Homo sapiens: one gene and its partner. The protein of the gene in region 1 purifies or fractionates together with the protein of each later gene. This does not show direct contact. Each region holds a gene or a part of one and is shown in the gene's direction. Other genes may lie near its edges.

Region 1 (4,052 bases):
CCAGTAGCAGAGAGACCACTTGCAGCCCGGGGACCTCCTGCCTCCTGGGGAGCACTGGGAGCTGCCGCAGGCTGAGCCACCGTCTACGTGGCAAGATTTGTTTTTCCCAATGGGGGCATTCATTTGCCCTGAGACCCCTGCTGTGGCCATGTGCATTTTGATATATTGATAATGATTACAGTTTTGCACATCATTTATTGACAAGTGCTTCGTGTATGTTGCCTCATATATTCTCACTGTCGTCAGCATCCTCATTTTACAGGTGAGGACACGGAGGCTCAGAGAGGTTAGGCAGCTTGCCTGAGATCATACAGCCAGTGAGAAGCAGAGCTGGAATTCAAACTCCGGGTGTGTCCCAGTGGGTTAAGGTCGGGACTGATCTGGTAGAGCTCAGTGTCCTGTCTGTGCCAGGGGCATGTGTGTGCCCTCAAAAGATAGACTCCGCCATTAGCCATCAGGCAGAGACCCAAGAGCACAGCGGGCAGGTGTGGCCCCAAGGACCCAGGCTCTCTGAATTTTGATGGTGTCATGTGAGAGGGCTTGGGGTGAAGCGTCTCCAGGTGGGCAGAGTGAACACCAGCACCTCTAAGCTGGACTTGCACCCCCCCAACACCCCAGTGCTCAGGCACAGCCATGCAGACCTTATGCTCTGGGTGATGGGGGCCGATGGGGCCCCTCTCAAAGGGTCTCCCCACCCAGCTCAGTACTGGCCCATGGAAAGGGCACCCCCTGAGGTGACACAGGGAGGGACACCAGCAGGGACCATCTGCGTCCAGCTCTCGGCACCCAGGTCCCCATCTCAGGGATGGTTTCACAAGCAGGGGCTTCCCAACCTCCCGGCCACACCTAGAACACTCCTGAAAGAGGGAGGAGGTGGGCAATGCCAGCCCCCGCTGTGCCCACCCATTTTCCTACTAAAGGCAGGTGGGAAGGGTCTGCCTGGTGCCACCACAGCGATCCCTGCCCATGTTTTCTCTCCTCAGGTTGGCTTAGTGCCAGCTCTGCCACTGGGCCTATGCTCTGAGGACAGGAACGTACCCTGCCCAGGGCATGCCCAGCAGCTGTCAGAAACTGCAGCTCCCTGCTGCCTTGGGCAGAGGCCCTGGCAACTCCCCTGGCCTGGCAGCTTCACATCTGCACCCCATTGCACACTGGTCCTCGGGCACCCGGACAGGACTTTGCCCCATGCACACAGCCAGTAGATGCTCAGAAACACGGGGCTGCAGCAGAAAAGCAGGGTGATCGCAGGATCACCAGACAAGGAGATGGAGGAAACTCAAATCCATCTCCCCGAGGAGGCTGGGGCCCGGGTTTTTAAGGGTTCTGGAGCTCGATAGCTGGAAGGGGCAGCGTGATGTCACAGCACAGGGAGAGGAAGAAGCTGTATTTTCGTGATGATCCTGTTCCTCCGTGGGGGGTTTCCAAACTGGTTGCTGGAATTGGGATCTGAAAAACATCTTGGGCCAGCAGCAGCCTGATTCAAGCTTAATTATGAGTATCTTTCTGTCCAGAACCTGGCATGCAATTCTTGTCAACCTTAGGGGACAGTTTCATTTGCCTTCCTGTGACCATGTGTCCTGGGGCCTGCTCAGCACCTGGTATCATCAGGCCCTGCCCGCCCCTGCCTCACCTCCAGCTTCTACGTCTGGAAGCTCCCTACCTGTCTCAGGCATGGCCCACCTCCCCTCCCACCCCGCATTAGAAGCAGTGGTGGGCTGGGGTCAGGCTGCCCCGGCAGGCTCCTGGTGCGAGCCTCGCACATGGCAGGTCCCCCATTCCCCTCGAGCAGGCCTGGCCTGCCCCAGGCATTGTTTCTATACAGACGGATTTTATGTGCCTTTTGTTTCTTCTCACAAGCCTGACGGTCCGTGGGTTCTTTCCGTTGACGTCATCGCGGCCATCACCACCATCACCCTCTGCACCCAGCAGCAGCCTCCAGCGGGGTCTCCCCAACTCTTCCCAGCACGTAGCTCCCTCCTCCCCTAGGCCAGTTCAGCCACCTTGCAGCTGCTCCCCCATCCCCTGCCCCTCTGCTCACCCATTTTACCCTCAGGTTGGTGTCCTCTCCTGTGCCCCAGGCCTGCTCTGCCTCCCCACCACTGTGGGCGGGGCCTGTCTTAGAGTCCACCCTGCATCTCCCCTAGCACCTGCCAAACAGTCCGTCTTGAATGAGGAAAAAGTGAGAGTGGTGTTTCGAATTAGTCACACCTGGGTTTAGCCCCCCACCCTGCACTCCAAGCTCTTGGTCTCCTCGCCTGCAGAATGGGCACACATGAGAAGAAACAGCATCGCAGGGCCCTCCAGACAGAGCAGGCAGAGGAGGAGAGCACCCATTCTCCCGCTCCCTGCCTTCAGTTGCACGGAGCAAACCCAGAGCCCCCTCCCTGGGGGGTCCTCTTCACAGTTCCTTGACTCCATCGGAGGCTCTCAAAGAGCTGCATTCGCTCACCACCTGCTGGACTGCTTGTTTTCTTCCCTGAAGATGAGTGGCCTCTTTGGGGTGTTAATTCTTAATGATCAACATTTCCTTGTTAATTTCTCTAAACAAATCATCCTAAAAATAGGTTTGACTTTTAAACAATTTTAAATTAAAAACTGAGCTTTTAATATCTGTTTAGACAACTGTAAGACAGTGAAAGGTTTATTGACTTGAAGCCTACATTTTAGGAAACATGTAGTTAAATAAAAAATACCAATTTCAGTATTTTTCATAACCTTTTTGTAACTTTACCACAATCTTTTAGGAACTAACGTCATGAGCTTGGAAGGGAAATTTATTTGAAGTTCAGCGTAAACTGAGTTTCACTTCATTTTTAAAATTCTGTTAATCTCAAGCAAAAGTAAATACATTTTATTTTTTAAAAAAGTTAATAGTGGTTAGCTTTAAGATATTAAAAATAATTATTTTTTGTTATGCTCCTCTGTATTTTTCAAATTTCTACCAAAAATAGGTAAGTTTATAGTCAGAAAAAGCCATAAAATGTAGTTTTTACAAAGAAAACAATGGACAGCCATATTAATGTAATGTGAGGAAAGAAAGCAAAACAACAACAACAACAACAAAAAAAAACGCTAATCTGACAGCAAAAATACACTGAACACATGCTACCCCTTCCATACACGTGTCTCTTTCTCTGCTGTTCAGATGACAGTGATGAGCTGAAACCAAGCTGGTTTCCAGAACAGTTTTTTGTTTTAACTAAAAGCCACATTCAACTTCCTGTCATCAACAAGCACAAGGACCAGAAGGAGCTGCCTTTGGCTCTGGGGACCCCTCCTTCCTGATGGTAACACTGCAGGTCCCAAGGGACCCCTCACTGCCAACACCAGTGTCAGAGTCACCTGAGAGCCTGGGGAAATGCAGGTTCCAGGACCTCCCCTAGATGGCCAAGCTCAGCCCCTGGTGCTCAGGAACAGAGCGGTTTCTATTCCATCTTCAGAGGCCTAAAGTCTTTTTTTTTTTTTTTTTTTCTGAGACGGAGTCTCGCTCTGTTGCCCAGGCTGGAGTGCAGTGGCGCGATCTCGGCTCACTGCAAGCTCCGCCTCCCGGGTTCACGCCATTCTCCTGCCTCATCCTCCCGAGTACCTGGGACTACAGGTGCCCGCCACCATGTCCAGCTAATTTTTTGTATTTTTAGTAGAGACCAGGTTTCACCGTGTTTGCCAGGATGGCCTCGATCTCCTGACCTCGTGATCTGCCCGCCTCGGCCTCCCAAAGTGCTGGGATTACAGACGTGAGCCACCTAAAGTCTTCTTAAGCAAAGGCTGCAGCAGTTTCAGGGGGGATGTGTGTGACACTAATTAGTGTGAAGGACAGTCCCAGGGCATGCCAGCGCAGGACACAGCTATCCACCAGCACACAGGACCAGCACGTGGCCAGCATTCTCTATGGGGTGGGGCACCAGCACTGCGCTGCTTTTTTGGGATGGAAGGCCAGGCTCCCTGGGCTGCTAAAGCACAAGGCAGGCACAGTCATCCAAAGCCCAGCCATGAAGCTCACCTTCTGGCCCAGAACCAACCACGGGACAGCCATTTGCCAGGTGGCCTCCCTT
Region 2 (3,666 bases), on another chromosome or scaffold:
GGGCTCGGCCCCGCGGCAGGCCTGGCCCCAACCGGCCCTTCCTGCCCTTTGCTATGCAGAGCCATCAAGAGCCTGCAGTGGATGGCGGGCGGCACCTTCACGGGGGAGGCCCTGCAGTACACGCGGGACCAGCTGCTGCCGCCCAGCCCGAACAACCGCATCGCCCTGGTCATCACTGACGGGCGCTCAGACACTCAGAGGGACACCACACCGCTCAACGTGCTCTGCAGCCCCGGCATCCAGGTGGGGTGGCCACCCCCAGGCTGCACCTGCCCCGCCTAGGGCGCCCCGCCAGCCAGGGTGGCCTTGTCCCCAGAAAGACGAGGGCAGAGCAGGCTGCGCCACACCGATACTGTCTGTCCCCACAGGTGGTCTCCGTGGGCATCAAAGACGTGTTTGACTTCATCCCAGGCTCAGACCAGCTCAATGTCATTTCTTGCCAAGGCCTGGCACCATCCCAGGGCCGGCCCGGCCTCTCGCTGGTCAAGGAGAACTATGCAGAGCTGCTGGAGGATGCCTTCCTGAAGAATGTCACCGCCCAGATCTGCATAGGTGCGCATGGGGCCACCCGGGCAGTCCCAGATCTGCGTAGGTGCGCGCGGGGCCGCCCGGGCAGTCCCAGATCTGCGTAGGTGCACGCGGGGCCGCCCGGGCAGTCCCAGATCTGCGTAGGTGCACGCGGGGCCGCCCAGGGCCGTCCCAGATCTGTGTAGGTGCGCGCAGGCGCCCAGGGCTGTCCCAGAGGCCTCCTCCCAGCTCACTGTTACCTCCAGGGGCACGGCCACCCTGTAGGTGCGCACGGGGCCGCCTGGGGCTGTCCCACAGGCATCCTCCTCCCGGCTCGCTGTGACTTCCGGGGGCACGGCCACCCCTGTGCTCGGCCGGGAGGTCCTGTGACATCTCCTTGCGGGGTTATAGGTGGAGCAGTGGGCTCACACTGCACGGCTTTTCTCTTTTACAGACAAGAAGTGTCCAGATTACACCTGCCCCAGTGAGTACCTCGGCGGCCGGGACACGTGGGGAGGAGGGCACCGTGGTTGGGGCGAGGGCTCTGAGAGGACGGGGCTCTGGGAGGAGGGCCTGGCGGTCACGAGAGTAGGTGCATGGCTCACTCCGGTGGCTGAGCACCACCGTGCCGTGCCCTCTCTGGGGAGCTTAGACGCTCTCTGGCCGGCCCACTGCGGCTGCATCACCAGGGCCTCATGCTAACGGCTGCCCACCCCGCCCCGCAGTCACGTTCTCCTCCCCGGCTGACATCACCATCCTGCTGGACGGCTCCGCCAGCGTGGGCAGCCACAACTTTGACACCACCAAGCGCTTCGCCAAGCGCCTGGCCGAGCGCTTCCTCACAGCGGGCAGGACGGACCCCGCCCACGACGTGCGGGTGGCGGTGGTGCAGTACAGCGGCACGGGCCAGCAGCGCCCAGAGCGGGCGTCGCTGCAGTTCCTGCAGAACTACACGGCCCTGGCCAGTGCCGTCGATGCCATGGACTTTATCAACGACGCCACCGACGTCAACGATGCCCTGGGCTATGTGACCCGCTTCTACCGCGAGGCCTCGTCCGGCGCTGCCAAGAAGAGGCTGCTGCTCTTCTCAGATGGCAACTCGCAGGGCGCCACGCCCGCTGCCATCGAGAAGGCCGTGCAGGAAGCCCAGCGGGCAGGCATCGAGATCTTCGTGGTGGTCGTGGGCCGCCAGGTGAATGAGCCCCACATCCGCGTCCTGGTCACCGGCAAGACGGCCGAGTACGACGTGGCCTACGGCGAGAGCCACCTGTTCCGTGTCCCCAGCTACCAGGCCCTGCTCCGCGGTGTCTTCCACCAGACAGTCTCCAGGAAGGTGGCGCTGGGCTAGCCCACCCTGCACGCCGGCACCAAACCCTGTCCTCCCACCCCTCCCCACTCATCACTAAACAGAGTAAAATGTGATGCGAATTTTCCCGACCAACCTGATTCGCTAGATTTTTTTTAAGGAAAAGCTTGGAAAGCCAGGACACAACGCTGCTGCCTGCTTTGTGCAGGGTCCTCCGGGGCTCAGCCCTGAGTTGGCATCACCTGCGCAGGGCCCTCTGGGGCTCAGCCCTGAGCTAGTGTCACCTGCACAGGGCCCTCTGAGGCTCAGCCCTGAGCTGGCGTCACCTGTGCAGGGCCCTCTGGGGCTCAGCCCTGAGCTGGCCTCACCTGGGTTCCCCACCCCGGGCTCTCCTGCCCTGCCCTCCTGCCCGCCCTCCCTCCTGCCTGCGCAGCTCCTTCCCTAGGCACCTCTGTGCTGCATCCCACCAGCCTGAGCAAGACGCCCTCTCGGGGCCTGTGCCGCACTAGCCTCCCTCTCCTCTGTCCCCATAGCTGGTTTTTCCCACCAATCCTCACCTAACAGTTACTTTACAATTAAACTCAAAGCAAGCTCTTCTCCTCAGCTTGGGGCAGCCATTGGCCTCTGTCTCGTTTTGGGAAACCAAGGTCAGGAGGCCGTTGCAGACATAAATCTCGGCGACTCGGCCCCGTCTCCTGAGGGTCCTGCTGGTGACCGGCCTGGACCTTGGCCCTACAGCCCTGGAGGCCGCTGCTGACCAGCACTGACCCCGACCTCAGAGAGTACTCGCAGGGGCGCTGGCTGCACTCAAGACCCTCGAGATTAACGGTGCTAACCCCGTCTGCTCCTCCCTCCCGCAGAGACTGGGGCCTGGACTGGACATGAGAGCCCCTTGGTGCCACAGAGGGCTGTGTCTTACTAGAAACAACGCAAACCTCTCCTTCCTCAGAATAGTGATGTGTTCGACGTTTTATCAAAGGCCCCCTTTCTATGTTCATGTTAGTTTTGCTCCTTCTGTGTTTTTTTCTGAACCATATCCATGTTGCTGACTTTTCCAAATAAAGGTTTTCACTCCTCTCCCTGTGGTTATCTTCCCCACAAAGTAAAATCCTGCCGTGTGCCCCAAAGGAGCAGTCACAGGAGGTTGGGGGGCGTGTGCGTGCGTGCTCACTCCCAACCCCCATCACCACCAGTCCCAGGCCAGAACCAGGGCTGCCCTTGGCTACAGCTGTCCATCCATGCCCCTTATCTGCGTCTGCGTCGGTGACATGGAGACCATGCTGCACCTGTGGACAGAGAGGAGCTGAGAAGGCAACACCCTGGGCTTTGGGGTCGGGAGCAGATCAGGCCTCAGTGGGCTGGGGCCGGCCACATCCACCGAGGTCAACCACAGAGGCCGGCCACAGGTTCTAGGCTTGGTACTGAAATACCCCTGGGAGCTCGGAAGGGGAGTTGAGATACTGCAGGGCCCATAGGAAGAAGTCTTGGGAGGCTCCACCTTTGGGGCAGAGGAAGAAGTCTTGGGAGGCTCCACCTTTGGGGCAGAGCAAGAAGAGGGCGGAGGGCAGAGGCAGCGAGGGCTCATCCTCAAAAGAAAGAAGTTAGTGGCCCCTGAATCCCAGAATCCGGGGTGCACGGCTGTTCTGGGGGCCGCTAGGGGACTAAGAGGATCGGCCGAGGGCTGGGCTGGAGGAGGGCAGCAGGGATGGGCGGCGAGGGTGAGGGTGGGGCTTCCTGAAGGCCTTCACCTGCGGGGACCCCGGCGAGCCCCTCAGGTGCCACAGGCAGGGACACGCCTCGCTCGATGCGTCACACCATGTGGCCACCAGAGCTGCGGGAAAATGCTGGGGACC

Evidence for each region.
Region 2: the proteins of CST7 (region 1) and COL6A1 purify together in Homo sapiens (affinity purification with mass spectrometry; one large-scale study listed by BioGRID and IntAct). This does not show direct contact.

Annotation. Positions count from the first base shown.
Region 1 is NC_000020.11:24,951,995-24,956,046, forward strand, and holds part of CST7 (cystatin-F precursor), read left to right. Parts: intron 1-4,052. UniProt on the Homo sapiens protein: Inhibits papain and cathepsin L but with affinities lower than other cystatins. May play a role in immune regulation through inhibition of a unique target in the hematopoietic system.
Region 2 is NC_000021.9:46,002,159-46,005,824, forward strand, and holds the end of COL6A1 (collagen alpha-1(VI) chain precursor), read left to right. Parts: intron 1-59; coding exon 60-243; intron 244-368; coding exon 369-552; intron 553-961; coding exon 962-991; intron 992-1,232; coding exon 1,233-1,855; 3' UTR 1,856-2,890; downstream 2,891-3,666. UniProt on the Homo sapiens protein: Collagen VI acts as a cell-binding protein.